4 linked regions of the Homo sapiens genome follow. The protein of the gene in region 2 purifies or fractionates together with the protein of the main gene of each other region. This does not show direct contact. Each region holds a gene or a part of one and is shown on either strand. Other genes may lie near its edges.

Region 1 (4,943 bases), on a different chromosome or scaffold from region 2:
TCTGATTGGTCCTTGGACCTTCTGTTCTCCCAAAATCCCAGGTCAGAAAATACCTGGAAGTCTATTTGTGTCCCACCTCCCTCTTTGTGGCCGCAAGTGCCCCTTCCTCCACACAGTCACAAGACCATGAGATGCCATCTCCTCCCCTCCTGGGCTGCAGACTTTGGGAAGCTCCCAGGCCACAGAGTGTCAGCTCCTGTCCAGGCCCTTGGGACCTTCCCTCATTCAACCACCCTACCCAACCCCCCACTGCCTGCCAGCCACCACTCCCTCCCACATTTGCAGGCGGGGGCCCTGCCCTCTCCTGCCGCTGGTTCCCCTACCCAGGAGGCTCTCCCATCGCTCTTTTGAGAGTCTGCCTCCCACCTCTAACTGGGGGCTTAGTTCAAGTTGCCCCCTTACCCTAGTCCCAGCTGCCCAAGAGCTTGCTGCCTCCTGTTCTTGGTGAGGGACTCCAGAGACAGATGTGAGACCTCCCTGGACCCCTCCAAGGCATTCCCAGGTCACTTCCATGAGTAGTGAAGAGCCGCCTCTGAGCAGGCTGAGCCTCCCTCAGCCTATGGTGTCCTCACGTGGCCTGGCCCACAGCAGGTGCTCACGCCTCCTCCTCAGCAGAGCCCTACCATCCTCCTGCCATGCTCACCAGTCCCCATGCTGATAGCCATCACCAGTCCCCATGCTGATAGCCATCACCAGTCCCCATGCTGATAGCCACTTTCTGGATGCTCTAGGTCTGTCTGGATGACACAGTGACCACAGAGAAGGAGCTGGACACTGTGGAAGTGCTGAAAGCAATTCAGAAAGCCAAGGAGGTCAAGTCCAAACTGAGCAACCCAGAGAAGAAGGTGGGTTTGTGTGGCAGGTGGGAGGGCAGTGGTGCAGAGCCAGCCGGGATAGGAGCCAGTTTGGGGGGCTTGGGCCATGGGACTGCTCAGGGCTGCCGAGTCCCAGCTGCGCCCCTCCCTGGCTGCATGACCTCGGGCAAGTCGCGGCCTCTCTGTTCTCTGTGGGGTGGGGACAGTGGTAGTTCCTGCTCTAAGGATATGATGAGACCATCTTTACCACCCAGTTGGTGGGAACCGTTGCGCTCCCTCCTCACACCCCTGGCCTTGGGGAGCTCTGTGCTTCCTCTTCTCTCCCGGGCTGACTCAAGCACTCGTCCTCAGGGTGGTGAAGACTCCCGGCTCTCAGCTGCCCCCTGCATCAGACCCAGCAGCTCCCCTCCCACTGTGGCTCCCGCATCTGCCTCCCTGCCCCAGCCCATCCTCTCTAACCAAGGTAATCGTGTATGTATCTTGCTTCTAGTGGAGCCACACAGCCCTGCCTGGGCCCCCTGGCTGGGCTGGGGTTGGGGGAGAGGTGCCAGCACCTGCTTCCAACAGGGTCAGACACAGGGAGGGCAGTGCCTTCTGCAGGCTGGTCCTCGCGGGGGGACACATGGCAGGGGTGCCTGGCCTGATGCCAGCTGTTGCTTGCTTGGTGAGGACTCCCAATTGCTCTGATGCCCACATCCAGCTCCTCTAGGAGACCGCAGGGTGTCTGACAGGCCCTGAGGCTGCCCTCTGAACAGGCTCGGGGCTGTTGGCTCATGGGACCCATTCCCTCACCGGCAGCACAAGCAGGTTGGCTCCTGGTTACAGGAAGCCGGGCTTGTGACTTTACTGTCTGGAGCCCGAATCCCTGTGCAGGGAAAAGCTTGCTTTTATCACTGCCTCATCTCTGTGGGGTGACCCAGCCCCAGAACACCATGTTTGTGGGGCCAAGATGGGCCATCTCTGTCCCTGTGGACCCATGGAAGACCAGGCCCATTCGTCTGCCCACTATCTTAGCGTTTTCAAAGGGCTTTCACCTCTGAACCCAGGCATCCTCGGAGATGAGTGAGTGAAGCAGGTCTCATGAGCGTGTCTGCTGGCCCGGCCCCCACGGAAGAGGGGAGGGTGTGCCGTCCCGAGTGGAGCCGAGGCTCGGGACACGCAGGAAAGGACGCCGCCTGCCCGGGCTCCTGGAGACGCAGAACTTGGTGTGAGGTCTTGGGAAAACAGTTCAACCCGATGTTTTAAGAGCCAGAAAAACATTCCCACCCCTTGACCTGGTAACCCCACTGGTGGGGATTTTCTCTTAGAGGGATAAGATACCGGGAAGGGGAGGTGAAATGCTCACCACTGCCAAAACACGGGCTGCAACTGCAACATCGGAGGATGAGAGGGAGAGTCGGCTGTGGTGCAGAATGCTCAGCAGCCCTCCCAGCAGGGACAGGAAGACTGGGCAGGAAGAGGGGAGAAGCATTCAAGTTAAGGCAAAAGGCCCAACGCAGAGCAGCACACTGAGGTCACACCTGTGAGATGTGGAAGAGAATTCCTGAGCGTGGAGCGATGGGGTTAGGTGCCAGGATGATTGCCCATTTTGCTTCTGTCAGACTCTTGACTAAGGATTTCTGGTTGCATTTTATTACATAAAAGCCAGGGAGGTTATATCACGGTGAGAAAGCTTCCCTGACGCTGCCTCCTGTAGCGCAGCCAAGCGAGCCTGTGGAGGTACCATATGACTGTAGGCCTCTGGGGACAGGGAGCTGCATCTGCTTCTCAAGGCCAGGGACACAGCCATTTCTGCCAGCATCTGTTGATCAGTGAGTGAGTGAGTGGGCAGGTAGAGCAGGAGCCAGTGAAGAGCAGGCCCTGGATGGGTGGGGATGCACCATGTCCCCAGGCTGCAGCTGCAGGCAGCCCCCCACATTGTCGGAGAAGCCTCTGCACCAGCTCAGCCCCCTCCTCACTCCCCTTGTGCCCTGGGGACACTCTGCAGAGGGGCACTCTGCAGTCTGTCCCCGCCATCGCTGGACTTCTGGACATGGCCTCCAGATTTGCACCTCTTAAATAAAACTGCAGTGGATGTCTTTGTGTGCACCTCTCTTTCCTTTTGGTGAGAAACAGCAAAGATCGGACCCCTAAGGACTCTCCTGATGTCTCCGCTCTATCCGCTGAGTGCCCTTTCTGACCACTTGTTTGTACAGGCCACGGTCCAGGACGGGAGCAGATAGACTGTCCCTGTCCCTGTCCACATTTCCTTGGTCCAAACAGGGCTTGTGGGAGGTAGTGGCAAAAGGTGTTGGTCTTTTTCTCACTGATTTGGAGGCCTCCCCGTGTGTTTTTTCAGCCGCGTGTTCCTGGGTCTTGCCTGGATGGACAGGGTTTTTTAGCGCGTGGGAGCAGCTTTGCTGACCCATGCCTGTTGCTTCCAGCCTGATTCCCGAGAAGGGAGCCTGCTTGCGAAGGAACTGGCACTCGGGCCTGCCTGAAGGGGGCGCTGTCCAGACAACACCCAGCCTCCCGTCGTGGCAGGCGCTGTCGGAGCCATGGATGATTGTGACCAATAGGGGTGGTCGCCAGAGTTGATTGTCCAGCCAGGCCCAGGGGCTGAGAGGAGGCTGTGTGGAGAGGTGGTTAGGAGCCAGGGCTCGGTCAGCTGAGTTCGCATGCCAGCTTCCTAGCTGTGGGACCTCAAGCAACTTGTAGCCCCTCTGAAGCTGTTTTCTCAACTGTGAAGTGGACGCACCCTACTTCATTGATTCTAAGAGGCACGCATTTCCACCTTGTGACTTCTCTGAAACTGAGGTGCGTCTTTCAGTCAGTGGCGTCTCATAGTCGCTGTCAGCCAGCTGGTATTCGAGATGGAGTCGTGGAAAACCCGTGGACACCTTCCGCTAGGACCAAGATGGCGCCACCTGCCGCATCTTAGATTTGATGAAATGTGGTAAATAACGAGAGGCATGCATGAGCGAATGCTGGGGAGGCGCTTGGCACTACCCAGAGCTCCACAGAGGTGGTCGATGAGGGCTGCCCTTTCCCACATCCTTAGTAGGGGGTTCAAGATGACCCAGACTGTGCCCCTGGGGAGCTTGGAGCCATGCGGGAGGATGAGCCATGTGCTGGAGGAGAACAGGGTAGGATGGTGTGGGGCTTTTGTAGACTGTCTAGAGCAGAGAAGGTCTGCAGTGGAGGTGGTGTCTGAGGTGAATCTCGAAGGTGAATAGGAGTTGAACGTTAGCAGGCAGAGGGTGGATTGCAGGAGAGCAGCGGCCTGGGCAGGTGCCCAGCGTGGCCCATCAGGGTGCTTCATGCATGGCTGTGTGCTTGCCATCCTTCCTGCCTGCCTACCCCCTGCTGCTTCGCTTCGTGGGGGCGTTTGAGCTTGGGCCCACCTGCCTGCCTCGCTTGTGGGCAGAGGACCCAGGCTGTGTGAGTTGTCCTGTCCCGGGGAGCAGCTGAGCTGGTCGGGGGTCTCGACCTGTGGGGCTCAGAGGACTCGGGGTCATTTCACTGGGCTGTGGCGATGCTGGGCTGTGGAGGTAGGCCTAGGGCTCCTGTAGGCCTCAGTGAGACTGGCGGCCGATGCCCAGTGTTCACCCTGCTGGCGGCAGTCAGGAACATGTTCACAAAGGCTTTACCTTCAAGTGGTCTAGAGGTGATCTGAGGTGGAGTAACAGGTCCAGATAGGCTACGTTCATAAAACAGCTTCAGCGGGGTTTAGGAACACTGTGCATTTACGGGACGCAGTGGGTCAGAGTGCTGCTGTCCGTGGGAGGTGGCCCCAGGGCAGGTCAGTGGGCACGTCCTGTGGTAAGTGGGACTGTGGATGTGGGCTCAGGCTGGACTCAGCAGCCCTGCTGGATACCAAGGCCTGCAAGGGCTGGCCCCCTGGTGAATTGTCCCGTGCCCTGTGTATCTATGAGTCCTGCAGAGATGACAAATCAGGGGACGGGGTCATGTCTAGTCACCGTCTGGGAAAATGCTCCAGGAGTGAACACATTTCAGGCTCTTGATGGATGTACCTCCAAACTCTTCTCTGGATGGGTGGGCCAGCTTGCATGCCTGTGCCGGCCTCTGCCCAGCGAGGTCAGGGCCAGGCCACACAGTCAGTCTGACTTTGGCAGAAGTTGAGAGGCA
Region 2 (4,943 bases):
CACTCTGTTCCCATCCCTGAAAACACCATGTCTTAAAAATTTTCTTGAAAAAAGTGATGTTTATGCAGTCAGTTTGCCCAGTTCTTATTTAGTTAAAGACACATAGGCTGGCCAGAGCTTCTGATTAATGAGAATAAAGTTTTTTCACTACATTGAGTTAATATTATTCCAACCCAAAGCAAACAGTGTAGGCATTTTAGTTAGCTCAGATAGCTTTATAAGAGTACATGTATGTTTTTCTGTAGGCTTTTTGACATGTTTAGAAATAGTTCCTAGACTCCCTTTGTGGTCCCCTAAGTGTCCAGCAGCCTCATGCTGGGAACCATGTGCGAATCCCTGAGGCTGCTGCTACCGCTGATGTTAAATGCCACTGTCAGCCAAGACCTGAGCTGAGTGTCTATTTGCTTTTTATTGAAAACTGTGGCGCTTACAGTGAAATTCAGCACATGAAGTACATTTCAGAGCGTTTGTTTTATCTTGCTAGTTTCGAATGATAGATTCCTGTGAAAGCCAACACCATCTCTTCTTTGCCCTTGACTGTGACCTGCATGTTAAAAGATCTAGTTTTCTGGTTATGCTACTGACTTAGAACATTGGAAAACCACTTTATACCTGATTTCCCTTTAAGCACTATTTATTTGCCATCTTGATATTTCAGAATCCTTCAAATTTATTTAGAGGACTTTGAAAATATATCATTGCACATAAAATGCAGTTGATTCAAAAGAGAACATTTAAAACATACATTTTATTAATCAAACTTTTATTGTTTTAAAATGAAGTTTTATTTTGGCCAGCCACAGTGGCTCACGCCTGTAATCCCAGCACTTTGGGAGGCCAAGGCAGGCAGATCACCTTAGGTCAGGAGTTCAAGACCAGCCTGTCCAACATGGCAAAACCTCGTCTCTACTAAAAATACAAAAACTAGCCTGGCACAGTGGCATGCCCCTGTAATCCCAGATACTTGGGAGGCTGAGTCAGGAGAATCACTTGAACCTGGGAGGCGGAGGTTACAGTGAGTGGAGATCATGCCACTGCACTCCAGCATAGGCAACAAAGCGAGACTCCGTCTCAAAAAAAAACAAAAAACAAAAAAAGTCATATTTTAAAAGATAAGCTTTTTCTTTCCTACACAAAGGAAAGGAAAAGTGGCAAGCCTATAAAACTCCCTTAACTTTAAAAATTATGTATACTTTAATTTTTATTTTTACTTTTTTTGAGACAGAGTCTCACTGTGTTGCTCAGGCTGGAGTGTAGTAGAATGATCACGACTCACTGCAACCTTGACTTCCCAGGCTCTGATGCTTCTCCCACCTCAGCCTGCTGAGTAGCTTGGACTACAGGCATGCACCACCCCACCTAGCTTGCTTATTTATTTATTTATTTATTTATTTATTTATTTATTTATTTATAGTAGAGACAGGGTGTCGCCATGTTGCCTAGGCTGGTCTCAAACTCCTGAGCTCTAGTGATCTGCCCACCTCAGCCTCCCGAAGTGCTGGGATTTCCAGTGTGAGCCACTGTGCCTGGCGTCACTTTTTATTTTGTAAACTTCTGTATTGTTTGGATTTGTTACAACAAGCATATATTACTTTTGTAATTTTCACAAAAAGAGACTGAAAAGAAAAAAATGTCATTTTAATGTTTTAAGTCAGATTCATCTTATTTTATAAAAATACTGGTAACTAATATTTAAAAGGTAAAAACAAACCCACAAGGGTAAAATATTAGAGACCAGTCCTCTGGTGAATAAATTGGGTTTTTTTTTGTTTTTGTTTTTGTTTTTTAAAAAAGAACAGTAACATTTTACATGGTAATTCCCTCTTTGGAAAAATGTTTCTGGTGCTCTGGACACATTAATTCAAAAGGAAGTAGTTTTGTAGGTTACATATTACAACCTTGCAGATAGAACCTGAGTAGCATGATAATCTTCTTTCCTCTTATTCCCAGAGTACAGAAACCTGTACAGCTCATTTTTTTTCTCAAAAGTTGTTACTTTATTTATTTGAGATGGGGTCTCACTCTGTTGCCCAGGCTGGAGTGCAGTGGCGCAATCTCAGCTCACTGCATCCTCCGCCTCCCAGGTTTAACCGATTCTCATGCCTCAGTCTCCTGAGTAGATGAGACTACTGGCGTACACCACCATGCCCAGCTGGTTTTTTATTTTTTCAGTAGAGACGGTTTCACCATGTTGCCCAGGCTGGTCTTGAACTCCTGGCCTCAAGCAATCTGCCCACCTCAGCCCCCCAAAGTGCTGGGATTACAGGCGTGAGCCACCACGCCTGGTCTTTATTTTTACTTTAAACCTTTATAATTAGATGATTAACTAGCTAATGCTTGTGTTGAAGCTATACCCCAAGTCTTTTGGCTGTTGCGGTGGCATTTTTAATTCTGCAAAGTACAGTCATAATATTATCTCTGTCATAAGTACCTAAGAAACATTATCTTCAGGCCTCCATCTCTACTAGAAATCCCTTTGTTTCAGTGAGTTTATTCCCAAGTCTGAAATTAATGTTTGATCTGTCTTGAACTTCTATTTCCAATGATTCTGTCATTATGCCTATGATAAGGTTGGTGGTTTTCTCTAAAACAGGTACTACTACAAGTTGTATATAATTTAACAGCTGTCTACAAGGTGCTATTGAACAAACTGGCCCTAATTCATTCAGTGAACACTTATTAAGCTCTGTGATGTGTTCGGTTTTAGAATCTCTTTGCTTCAGGAAGCCACACTGCAGGTGTCTACACGTCCCAAGAGGTCCATACATTTTTTCAACTGACTGCTCCCTCAAGATTAAAGCCATTTTAACCCCATTTGCGCATAATTTGTTTACCACTAAGTTTATTTTGCTTTTTTTTTTTTCCAGCCTCCTTTTTATTGCCGAGATGTTGCTGAAATGTATGACAATATCCTTCACAAACCCCTAAGTTTGAGGCCAGGAGTGAGTCTTACAGCCTGGTCCATTCTGGAAGAACTCCTAGAAAAAGACAGGCAAAATCGACTTGGTGCCAAGGAAGACTTTGTATGTAACAGCTTTTCTAGCTCCAGCTTTATTTAAGCTTATTTAAAATTTGGAAATAAAGCTTTATTTTATATGGTATTTAATGGAATGAATACAATATGCGGAGAATAGCAACATGGAAAAAAAGCATACTTGTCTCCACAGTTTTCACCTGTATTTATATAAAACTATGTAGTATTTAAAGCACTTTCTGTTGCATACACTTTTGCCCTATCCACCACATACACTTTCGCACCCTATTATTTACTTGATTTTCATTTATTACAAATTCCCCTCCCCTTCTTTTTAAAAAGTGTTGTGTGGCATATTTTCACTACCTAAACTTTCTTTTGCTGTTTTTATTGCTAAATAATACTAACATTTTCATGAACTAATAACACAGAGACTAACCAACTAGTAAGCTTTTTGTTGAGGGTTTGGGACTATCTAAAGTCTAAATCATTTCCTTTAGCAGGAATTTGTTAAGTGCCTCCTGTCTGCATGAGGTAATGTCTTTTGCCTTGAACACTAAGTCACTTTTTTTTTTTTTTTTTTTTTTAAGAATTTGGTGAGACCTCCTTGAGATAATTAGGGAATCTGCATGTTTGTTTCAAATAAGGGTAATTAAATTTGTAGTGTAGTTACCGGCATTATGTTAGTGTGTCAGTAAATGCACAAAAATATTGAGGAATATGAACTTTTGAACTGCTTTCTCAGATATTCTTGGAGGCTGCTTATCAATTTTGAACTTGAGCTGTGAATAAAAGACTTTGCTGCTACTGCTTTACCCCTGCTCCCCAGTTCAGCTGGTAGCTCTGCCAACAACTTCCTTTCCGTTGTTCCAGACAGTCTTGCTAATATTTCACACCTCCTTGTCCCTTGGTCCATTTATTGAATTCATTGACAGAGATTGCAGCTCTAGATGAATCCAACTATCATCTCATGGGCTGCTGAACAGTGCTAAAGAAGGTAACAAACTGGGCATATTGGAAGCACTGTGAACCTCGTCTGTGCTTCCCCACTGTCTGGTAATACTCTTTGTTTCTCTGTGTAGCTTACTCTCTTCCTCTCTGTATTAACTATTTCACACCTTCTCTCCAGACTTCCCAGATTCCTTTTCTTCTTCTTCACTTTTAACAGATGATCTTGCCTTCTATTTTGTAAGGAAAATAGAACCATTAGAGTGGAGCTAACTTAGCTTCCTGCTATCAAATCCACAGACCTATATACACTTGCAGGATCCTGTCATTTTCTTCTTCGTATTGTAGTGGAAAAGGTCTGTTTCCACCTGTGCACTGTATCCTGTCCATTTGTAAGGAACCCTGTCCATGTTTGTTTGTTTTGCACAAATAACTGCTCCCCTTTTTTTCTGGTTCCTTCCAGTCAGTAATTAAATGTTATCAAATCTGTTGCTTCTTAAGCCAAAAAAACCCTCAGTCTTACTCTCCTGAGAGGTACTACTCTATCTCCTTCCCTTCTTAGCCAAACTTGTTGGAAGTTTTCTTTGTTCAGTCTCCCTTTCCCAAGCTCTTTCATTTCTCAATCTACCACAAAATAGCCAGTAGAATTGCTGGATACTACTTTTCCTCAACTTATGCCGCCCTCAGCAGCATTTAAACTTGCAACACTCTCCTGTTCCCTAGCCTTCTGCAAGAGCACACGTGCGTCTCATCTCAGGCTTTTCTTTCTGTATTTCTGGACCGTTCTCCATTATTTCCTGTGTAAGCTCCTTTTCAAACTTCAAGTGTTGCAGTGCCCTGTCGTCCTAAACCCTCTTTTCTTCCGTGCTGTCTTCCTGGGCAATCTCAATTGGTCCCATGGCTTTAGTTATCTATATGTTTTCATCTCACACATTTATATCTTCTGTACTCTTCAGCCCTCTCTTCTAAACTCTAGACTTACATAGTATCTGCCTGCTCAACATCACCACTTGGAGTTCCT
Region 3 (4,899 bases), on a different chromosome or scaffold from region 2:
AACTCATTCACTGTATATTTACTTACTGCTAAATGACAAGATAATTGTTATTGCATAGTGTTTGAAAAATTAGAATGTTAGCACAACATCCTGAAATTGTCTCTGTGTGAGATATGTATTATCTGAATGCATGTAGCAAGCAGTTTTATTTTGGACTCAAGAAAACATTAATTTCTAGACATTTTCTTAGTTTCCTTTAAATCAACAAACTTCATGAGAAAATGTCACTGTTTTCTTGGGGGGTGCGTGTAGGGAATGATGTATTCTGCTCCAAGATATGCTTTAGGGAAATTACTTGGAAGTCAAGGATTCTCAAGTGGAAAAACTTCAACTTCAGTTTGCTATAATATGTTCTATAAATCTATTAAATCTTGACATGTGAAGACATGTAAATGTGGCATTCGAAACAAAGAGCTATAGAGGTTTTCCCCTTTCACAGTAGGGTCATTTACTAGATAATTTGCATTGGTTGACTATTTGAAAAATAGTCTAGAATAATTTATTATCTTCTTGCTTTCTCATCATTAATGTTATGTATATTATTTTCTTTCAGTTGGATATGTCAAGTGACCAGATAGCTGCCAATCTGCAAGCAGTTATTAATGAAGTTTGTAGGCACAGACCGCTGAATTTGGGTAAGTGGTTTGCTGAGGGTAGACTTCCCTATGACCCTGTGAAACTTTAAAATGTAAAATATGAAGAAAAAAGTCAAATTAACATGCAAGTATAATAGCAAAATGTAAAATATTAAATAAAAAATCAAGTTAACATGCAAGTTTTATATTTCCAGGGATTAAATAAATAAAATTTAATTCTCCAAAGGATTTCTCTAGCATTAATAAGGAATGCATCCTGAAACCTTTGTAGATTCCCACATTATTACTAATAATAGATGTAGCAAAGTTTGAAAGAAAACTGTAACTGATTGCTTTAAACTTACAATGATGTTAGGGACTAAAATTATTTCTAAAATGATATTTTGAAACCAGATCATTCACTTTGTCATTGGCACTAGCAATTAGTTTTCTTAATCTTATTTATTTATTACAGGACAGAAAGAAGATCATTTTATTATGTCATGAGAGTCATTTATAAATGAGGTGACTCATAGAGAATCACTCAACTCAATTGAGATGTGGAAGCTGTGTAGTAGGCTAGAACACAGGCATCCAGTTTCTTTATCATTGCGTTGTGTGCTGTTCAAATTCCTTCCTCAGACAAATTTCACTTGTGGCTGCTTGAAGCCAAGCAAGGGTCCATTATACTCAATTGACTACTCATTTGTAGGCTTACCATGATAAGAATTTGTCAGGTTTAGTTTTATAACCAAGTTTATAATTAAAACACAATCTTAAGCTATTTTTTACCTTCTTTGGGAGTTAACCATACTGGTGAATAAATACCACCCTTGTTAATTTTCTTGCCCTAAATATGGCCATACTACTAAGTAATTGGATGTGTATGGATTCTTAGAGTCCACAGATAACTTTGATTTCAGTACAGGATCCTCTTGAGACAATAGTAGGAGTAGATGATGGACAGTAAATCCTCAAAATGTTGTTATTCTCTTTTTGCTATTTCATATGAAGCCCCTTAGCATGTTTAAATGTTGTGATTCTCTTTTTGCCATTTTATTTTAGTTTTTGAGACGGAGTCTCACTCTGTCACCCAGGCTGGAGTGCAGTGGTTTGATGTCAGCTCACTGCAACCTCCGCCTCCCGGGTTCAAGCAATTCTTCTGCCTCAGCCTCCCAAGTAGCTGGGATTACAGGCACCTGCCACCATGCCAGCTAATTTTTGTATTTTTAGTAGCGGTGGGGTTTCACCATGTTGGCCAGGCTGGTCTCGAACTCCTGACCTCAGGTGATCCACCTACCTTGGCCTCCCAAAGTACTGGGATTACAGGTGTGAGCCACGGTGTCCGGCTGTCTTTTTGCTATTTTAAATGAAGCCACTTAACGTTGTTCTTATGAAAAGCATTTTAGTTTTTAGGGAATTTTACCAACTGTGTGGTAACACAAAGGTAGCATCTGTGCTGACTGTTTTAAATAAATATTTATAACATTTCCATCAAATGTAAATATCACCACCTGCTCCCTTCACTGTTGCCTTTGCAATAAAATAAATTCTAGGTGATCATCTTCTGGAAGAGAGAAATGAATTATTAGTGAGTGTGTGTAGTTTGAAGGATAAATCTCTAATATTCTAGAGTACAACTAGTTTGTCTTCTATTCTAGAAATGAAACTATCTTCCCCTTCTTATAATTCAAAATATTAGTTCAGTAATACAGTACTTTTCACTGAAAATATGACATGAGTTCTATAAGTTTTCCTGTTGTATATTTGTACAGCAGGTCCTTGAATAACATCCTTTTGTTCAATGTTATTTTATTATAACATTGATAAGAAAAAAATAGATTCCTGGCCAGAGCCACTGTCTGTGTGGAATTTGCATGTTCTCCTCATGTCTGCATGGATTCTCTGGGTACTTCGGTTTCCTCCCGCATCCCAAAGGTGGCATGTTAGGTTAATTGGTATGTCTGCATGATCCCGGTGTGAGTTAGTGTGTGGGTTGTGTACGTGTGCCCTGCAATGAGATGCTGCTTATCCGGAGATCATTCCCACCTATGCTCTGACCTGCCAGGATAGGCTTTGGCCTCCCACAACCCTGGACTGGAATAAGGGAGTTGGAAGATGAATTAATGAATACAAACTATTGTAAAATAAAAATGGGCAAAGTATATGATAATCATACAAATGCAGGACAATAAATGATGTGGTATGAAAGCACTCAGTGAGGCAACCATATTTGTTAGTTTGTTTTTGAACTGCACGGTGGCAGAAGGCGCTTCTTACAGTTTTCACTTTGCAAACACTTAGTCTTTGATTTAAGTCACCACCACTATGACTCCTGTCACTCTGATTCACCCACAGTTGGGTAAATAATTATTGCTTTTATTAATCTTAAATGTATTTATAGTTCAAATTTATTTCAATGGTTAATATTAGAAGTGTTTGAGCTCTTTATTTAGAAGCTTGGTGATATTTTTGTGACTAGAAATATGCCTGAGAAACTTAACTCTTATTAATTAGCCTACGGTACAATTGGTTTCTTTATAAGTTGTTTTGCTTAAAGTTGCAGTTTCCAAGAACCTAGTGACAATATTAAGTGAGGACCTACTTTATTTGCTCATGAGGTGGTATTGCGATATAAAAATCAAAGTTGATTCTCGTTTTTGTTTCCAGGTCCCTTTGTGGTACGTGCTTTCCTTCGTAGTTCAACAAGTGAAGGTTTATTACTGAAGATTGATCCATTGTTGCCTAAAGAAGTAAAAAATGAAGAAAGTGAAAAAGAAGATGCCTAAATGTGGTGAATTGTGAAATTACTTTCAGTGGTTTAAGAAGCAATGGAGAAAATGATAATACAGCATAATTTTTACATTTGATGTCTTGTTATTGATCATACTTGAAAGTGAACTTTAACATTGAAAAATCGTACAGTCATTTCAAGAATAAGAAAATAAAATTTTCTCTTTGTCTGAACCTGCCTTTTAGACCCTGTGACATTTTCTTTTTTAGAATCCAGAGTCTACGTACTGGTAATTATAGCAGCAGTTTCTGGCTTAATAACTTTCCCTTGGGAGTCATAACCATCTGAGGGAATAGTAACATCCTCAGTTCCCATAAAGCAGAAAATGGCAGAATCATGAGCTACATCACAAATATAGCTATTTTCTTTTAAAAAAAAAAAGAAAATAAGCATTCTAAAGTATTCTGAATACTATTTGTGATAGCATGAATATAGAAAATTACTAAGTCACTAAACCGTATGTTGGGTAATCTCTTTTTAGGAATCAGTTTGTAATTATATATATAATATGTATATGTAATATATATTATTATATAATTATATATGTAATATATACATTTGTAATAATACCACATATTTTTATGATGCTTTGTAGTCTACAAGGCACTGTATGCAGTGTTTTCATATACGTGACCTCATTTGCTCCTGAATTTCTCTGCTTAATAGTATAACAAGTGTTTGGTTAGTGTTTATCGAATGAACATTCCCATGAAGTAGCTAGAACAACTTCATTCATGGATTAAAAATCAGGCCAAGAAGTAAAGCACCTTGCATCAAGTACCAGTTTGCAGACCGATGTTAATCCTTAAGTGCTTACTGATATATGACAAAGTGAAAAAAATAAGGATAATTTTTGGCATGCAGTTGCCAGCTGTCCTTTCTTGGGAATGATTACTTGAAGTATCTTCCACTTTTTTAGGGATTATTCGAATGAGTTTTCTTTTATGAAATAATAGTGATGGTGACTTTGTTGGTGGGGTTTAAATACCTACTTTGTTTTTTGTTTTGTTTCATTAATGCACCTCATTTTATTTTAGTTTTGGTGTTGACTTGCCAGCTCTAGCTTTTCAAGGTAAAATCTTTTTTGAAGAAGAGCTGGGTAACACAATTCTCACAATCCAAAATGTATGATTTTAAAACAATTGGATTTCTAATAACACGAATTATTTTGATTCATTTTGCATTGATCTATTTGGGAACCATAAATCTGCCTAGAGCACACAGAATCTGCACACTCAACTTGGCCAAGGAATAGACATGTTTCAAGATGAAGTTCATCACTACCAATGAAGTATTTATTCTTCCCAAGGCTGTTCTGCTTAAATCTAATCAAGCTTATAGACCTACATCTCAGTTTACAGAAGATATAGGAGATGGCGGGACAAATCAACTGACCTCAAGTGGGAATAATTAGGCCAGTTCAGAATGTGGGATGTTATACAGTTCAACCCTCCCAGCCTCATAGAAACAAGCAGAAGGAGAAACCATTAAAGAGAATTCAGACATAACAATTAACTCTAGTGTGGGTTA
Region 4 (4,943 bases), on a different chromosome or scaffold from region 2:
ACTGCCTGTGGTTTTAAAATTTGTTTTAGTTATACTTGTAGAGTATGAACATGTTTTCTTTTTTGAAAAAAAAATTCAGGTGCTTTATGGTAGTTTGAGTGTAAAGCTTTCTAAGTTGAGCTAAAGCCTCCACAAACATTTTTCCCCTTTATAACACAAGTTTCCTTCCCTCTAATTATCGCTGTTTCAAAATTGGCATTTCCCGTGTAGGAATTCTTTACATACTCTGTTTACAGATCATTATACTTATGTTCACTGTATTTTTCACCTAGCTTTTGGTTTATCTTTTAATTTTATTTACAGCATTTTTTGGTATAATACTTTGTCATTTTGACATAATTAAGTGTGTTGGTTGTTTTTCTTTATGGTTTTTGCTTCTGGTTTTTTATTTAAGAAGCCTTTTCCTAACTCAAGTTCACAAGGATATTCTTCAAAATTTTCTTCTAGTACTTTTAATGGCTTAAAAAATTTATATCTTTAATGTATATGGAATTTATTTTGGTGTACTATGTGAAGACGAGTATACGTTATGTTTCTCAAAGAGCAACAAGTATTTAAACTTCATTTATTGAGTGATTTTTCATTTCCTCACTGTATTAGTCTGTTCTCATGTTGCTAATACAGACATACCCGAGACTAGGTAATTTAAAAAGGAAAGTTTTTTTTTTTTTTTTTTTTTGAGACGGAGTCTCGCTCTTGTCACCCAGGCTGGAGTGCAGTGGCGCGATCTCGGCTCACTGCAATGTCTGCCGCCTGGGTTCAAGCTTCTTATGCCTCAGCCTCCTGAGTGGCTGGGATTACAGGCACCTGCCACCATGCTTGGTTAATTTTTGTACTTTTAGTGAGATTGGGTTTTGCCGTGTTGGTCAGGCTGGTCTCGAACTCTTGATGTCAGGTGATCCACCCGCCTTGGTCTCCCAAATTGCTGGAATTACAGATGTAAGCCACTGCACCCTGCCAGGAAAGAGGTTTAATGGACTCTCAGTTCCACATGGCTGGGGAGACCTCACAATCATGGCAGAAGGCGAATGAGGAGCAAAATTATGTCTTACATGGCGACAGGCAAGAGAACTTGTGCAGGGGAACTCCAATTTATAAAACTATCAGATCCCATGAGACGCACTCACTACCACCAGAACAGTAGAGGGGAAACTGCGCCCATGATTCAGTTAAGTACACCTGGCCCCACCCTTGATACATGAAGATGATTGCAATTCAAGGTGAGATTTGAGTGGGGACACAGCCAAACCATATCACTCACTGTTTGGAAACGTTACTTTTAACATATATTAAATTCCCATATATAATTTAGACCCTGTTCTTGGGCTAGTACTATACAGTTTTCGTTATTATAGTTTTACAAGGCTACAATACTTTGTAAGAAACCTTGCAGGTCAGATGTGGTTTTGTTGTCAGGAATTTTTTCCAGTAATACTTAGTGGACATTATGTAGTATCCAGTAATCACACACATTGTTTTCTTAATGAAATATATGAAGTCACACTATGTGGGATACATATAAACAGTAAGTAAGCTCAGATCAGGTCAAGGTTTGCTGCTAGATGAGTTAAAAGGAAAATCTTATTTTCAGAGGTTTTTGGATTTTTGCAGTACAAATGAAGAATTATGGATTTGTAATTTATGTTGCTGTTGAGGGCTGTCTTCCTTCCTTGTTCATCTATTTTAAATTGTTTGGTTACTCTTGTATCTTTACTCTCCATTTGAATTTTAGAGTCAGCTTGTTGAGTTACTTGAAAAATCCTTCAACACCTGTGAAAGGAAGGGATCTATAGCTGGTTAGCAAAATCCTGTAGAGATTTTTCACTGGGATTGTGCTAAGTAGTTGGGGAAGAACTAAATCTTAGCAGTGTTTGTCTTCTCATCCATGAACACAGATAACTTTGTTTAGGTGTTCTTTCATGTCTTTCAGTAAAATGTTATAGTTTTTTTCCCCCAAAATTCTTGCACATTTCTGTTGATTTACATCAAAGTACTTTTATGGTTTTGTTGCTGTTGTGAATGGGATTTAAAATTTCCTTTAAATTAAAAACTGCATTTTCTAGTTGTTACTACTGATGTATACATTGATACTTATATATTGATATTGAGTTTGACCAGTTTGTTGAGTTCTGTTATTCTAATAACTTGTCAGTTGATTATCTTGGGTTTTCAGTTAGCAAGTCAGATATTCAGACATTGAGTTTAATCTTTTCCTTGTCAATCTTTATACTTCTTGTTTTTTTTTCTTTTTCTTTTTTGTAGACAGGGTCTTGCTATGTATCCCAGGTTGGTCTTGAACTCCTGGCCTCAAGCGATCTTCCTACCTTGGCCTCCCAGAGCGCTGGGATTATAGGCATGAGCCATTGCACTTGGCACTTTTTTTGTTTGTTTTCCAGTTGCATGGTATGTTTTCAGCGTTCAGTTTTGAGACATCTAAAATATCTCTAAAATATTGTTTACTATGAGTACATTATGCTGTAATCACATTCTGAATGCGTGAGTACATACATGGTAGAAGGGCTAGATCTTCTTTAAGTGGGGGTAATGGAAAGTCTCTGAGAAGGGAAATATTTATTATTGGAGGATTTAATGTGTGATCTTTTCATTACAGATATGGTGTAAGATACTTCTTCAAGATTGGACAGCTGGGGACCTTCTTCTGATTAACCTTAAACCAACTTGTAGCCATAGAGACACCTCACAAGGTTCCCATTTTTGTTGTTGTTGTTGTTGATTTTCTGCTCACACCTTTCCTGACCTTGCAACCATGTATGGAAGTGCCCGCTCTGTTGGGAAGGTGGAGCCGAGCAGCCAGAGCCCTGGGCGTTCACCCAGGCTTCCACGTTCCCCTCGCTTGGGTCACCGTCGAACCAACAGTACGGGAGGGAGTTCGGGAAGCAGTGTTGGAGGTGGCAGTGGGAAAACCCTTTCAATGGAAAATATACAATCTTTAAATGCTGCCTATGCCACCTCTGGCCCTATGTATCTAAGTGACCATGAAAATGTGGGTTCAGAAACACCTAAAAGCACCATGACACTTGGCCGTTCTGGGGGACGTCTGCCTTACGGTGTTCGGATGACTGCTATGGGTAGTAGCCCCAATATAGCTAGCAGTGGGGTTGCTAGTGACACCATAGCATTTGGAGAGCATCACCTCCCTCCTGTGAGTATGGCATCCACTGTACCTCACTCCCTTCGTCAGGCGAGAGATAACACAATCATGGATCTGCAGACACAGCTGAAGGAAGTATTAAGAGAAAATGATCTCTTGCGGAAGGATGTGGAAGTAAAGGAGAGCAAATTGAGTTCTTCAATGAATAGCATCAAGACCTTCTGGAGCCCAGAGCTGAAGAAGGAACGAGCCCTGAGAAAAGATGAAGCTTCCAAAATCACCATTTGGAAGGAACAGTACAGAGTTGTACAGGAGGAAAACCAGGTAAGTTCTACGTGTGTTTACCTTTATTGGCTGAATTCATGTATATAAATGAAATAGCCTTTTTTTCCCCTTTCCTAGATTTTTCCCTTCGTAGTATATGTATCTTCCTTTTTCCTATTGATTTTACTGTTTTGTGTCCTCCATTTCTCAGCCCTTTCCAAATTTGGTCCTGTACCCTGTTTTCTTCTAGCTGCCCATGTCTCCTTGCTCCCATTCTTGCTTGGTTCTTTTCTCTGGTTTCTCTTTCTCTTCGTGTCTTTCCTTTCAGCATATGTTATCTTTTTTTTTTTTTTCCAATTCTTCTGAGAGTATAATTTTGCCACACTCTCTAATATCTATTACCAAATGTATTTTAGAGTAGGTAACTTAAATGTAAGGTATACCATTAAGATTTGTCATAATGTCAAAAAGTCATTCTTAAAAACAAAACAAAATGACTATCACAGGATAAGTCAGTGTTGTCAGCTGAGAACAGAAATTACTTTTAAAAAGTTAATGTTGGCCGGGTGCAATGGCTCACACCTGTAATCCCAGCACTTGGGAGGCCGAGGTGGGCGGATCATTGAGGTCAGGAGTTCGAGACCAGCCTGGCGACGTGGTGAAACCCTGACTCTACTAAAAATACAAAAATTAGCCAGGTGTGATGGCGTGTGCCTGTAATCCCAGCTTCTAAGGAGGCTGAGGCAGGAGAATCACGTAAACCTGGGAGGCGGAGGTTGCAGTGAGCTGAGATCCCGCCACTGCACTCCAGTCTGGAGTGAGACTCTGTCTCAAAAAAGAAAAAAAAGTTAATGTTGATGATGTATTTATTAAGTACAAACAATAAGTACCTGTTCTTTTTGTTGCCATTCATGGAAGTTTAACTTCAGGATGCTTTTGTAGCTTTTCGTTCTGTAATTCTTTACATTTAAGGTGGAGGAAAGGCAACTTGGTGTGATTGTTTACTTGTAGAAAATAAATGAGATGACTGGGCATTATAATTATGGGCTTTGCAATTTGAGAGCTAAGTGCTGTCACATTAGCTACAGGAAATATTCACTTATTTTTCTGTGCTCCTCCAGGTTATAGTTGATGTTTGATGATAGCCATGCCACATTCAGTGAGGAAGCTGATGACTCCAAAGATGTGAACAAATCATATTCAGGCTCTACTAGTTAAAATGTTAAACATACTTTTTTTTTTTTTTTTTTTTTGAGACGGAGTCTTGCTCTGTCTCCCAGGCTGAAGTACAGTGACGCAATCTCAGTTCGCTGCAACCTCCACCTCCCAGGTTCAAGTGATTCTCCTGTCTCAGCCTCCTGAGTAGCTGGGATTACAGGTGCCCGCCACCACGCCTGGCTAATATTTGTATTTTTAGTAGAGACGGGGTTTCACCGTGTTGGCCAGGCTGGTCTCAAACTCCTGACCTCAGGTGGTCCACCTGCCTTGGCCTCCCGAAGTGCTGGGATTATAGGCGCGAGCCACCGCCAGGCCCATACTTTTTGTTTAAAAGACTTTTAGAATTTTT

The links. Proteins that work in one complex are often made in the same cells at the same time.
Region 1: the proteins of SGK3 (region 2) and NISCH purify together in Homo sapiens (affinity purification with mass spectrometry, with the first as the bait; one large-scale study listed by BioGRID). This does not show direct contact.
Region 3: the proteins of SGK3 (region 2) and MRPL1 purify together in Homo sapiens (affinity purification with mass spectrometry, with the first as the bait; one large-scale study listed by BioGRID). This does not show direct contact.
Region 4: the proteins of SGK3 (region 2) and ERC1 purify together in Homo sapiens (affinity purification with mass spectrometry, with the first as the bait; one large-scale study listed by BioGRID). This does not show direct contact.

What each region holds. Positions count from the first base shown.
Region 1 is NC_000003.12:52,479,018-52,483,960, forward strand, and holds part of NISCH (nischarin), read left to right. Parts: intron 1-731; coding exon 732-845; intron 846-1,166; coding exon 1,167-1,278; coding exon of another isoform or gene 1,279-1,502; exon of another isoform or gene 1,503-1,861; coding exon of another isoform or gene 1,862-1,881; exon of another isoform or gene 1,882-3,740; coding exon of another isoform or gene 3,741-3,750; intron 3,751-4,943. UniProt on the Homo sapiens protein: Acts either as the functional imidazoline-1 receptor (I1R) candidate or as a membrane-associated mediator of the I1R signaling.
Region 2 is NC_000008.11:66,844,326-66,849,268, forward strand, and holds part of SGK3 (serine/threonine-protein kinase Sgk3), read left to right. Parts: intron 1-2,867; coding exon 2,868-3,023; intron 3,024-4,943. Other genes in the region: C8orf44-SGK3 (serine/threonine-protein kinase Sgk3), read left to right, coding at 2,868-3,023.
Region 3 is NC_000004.12:77,949,244-77,954,142, forward strand, and holds the end of MRPL1 (large ribosomal subunit protein uL1m precursor), read left to right. Parts: intron 1-553; coding exon 554-635; intron 636-3,180; exon of another isoform or gene 3,181-3,245; coding exon 3,246-3,364; 3' UTR 3,365-3,542; downstream 3,543-4,899.
Region 4 is NC_000012.12:1,025,137-1,030,079, forward strand, and holds part of ERC1 (ELKS/Rab6-interacting/CAST family member 1), read left to right. Parts: intron 1-2,611; 5' UTR 2,612-2,767; coding exon 2,768-3,436; intron 3,437-4,943. UniProt on the Homo sapiens protein: Regulatory subunit of the IKK complex. Probably recruits IkappaBalpha/NFKBIA to the complex. May be involved in the organization of the cytomatrix at the nerve terminals active zone (CAZ) which regulates neurotransmitter release.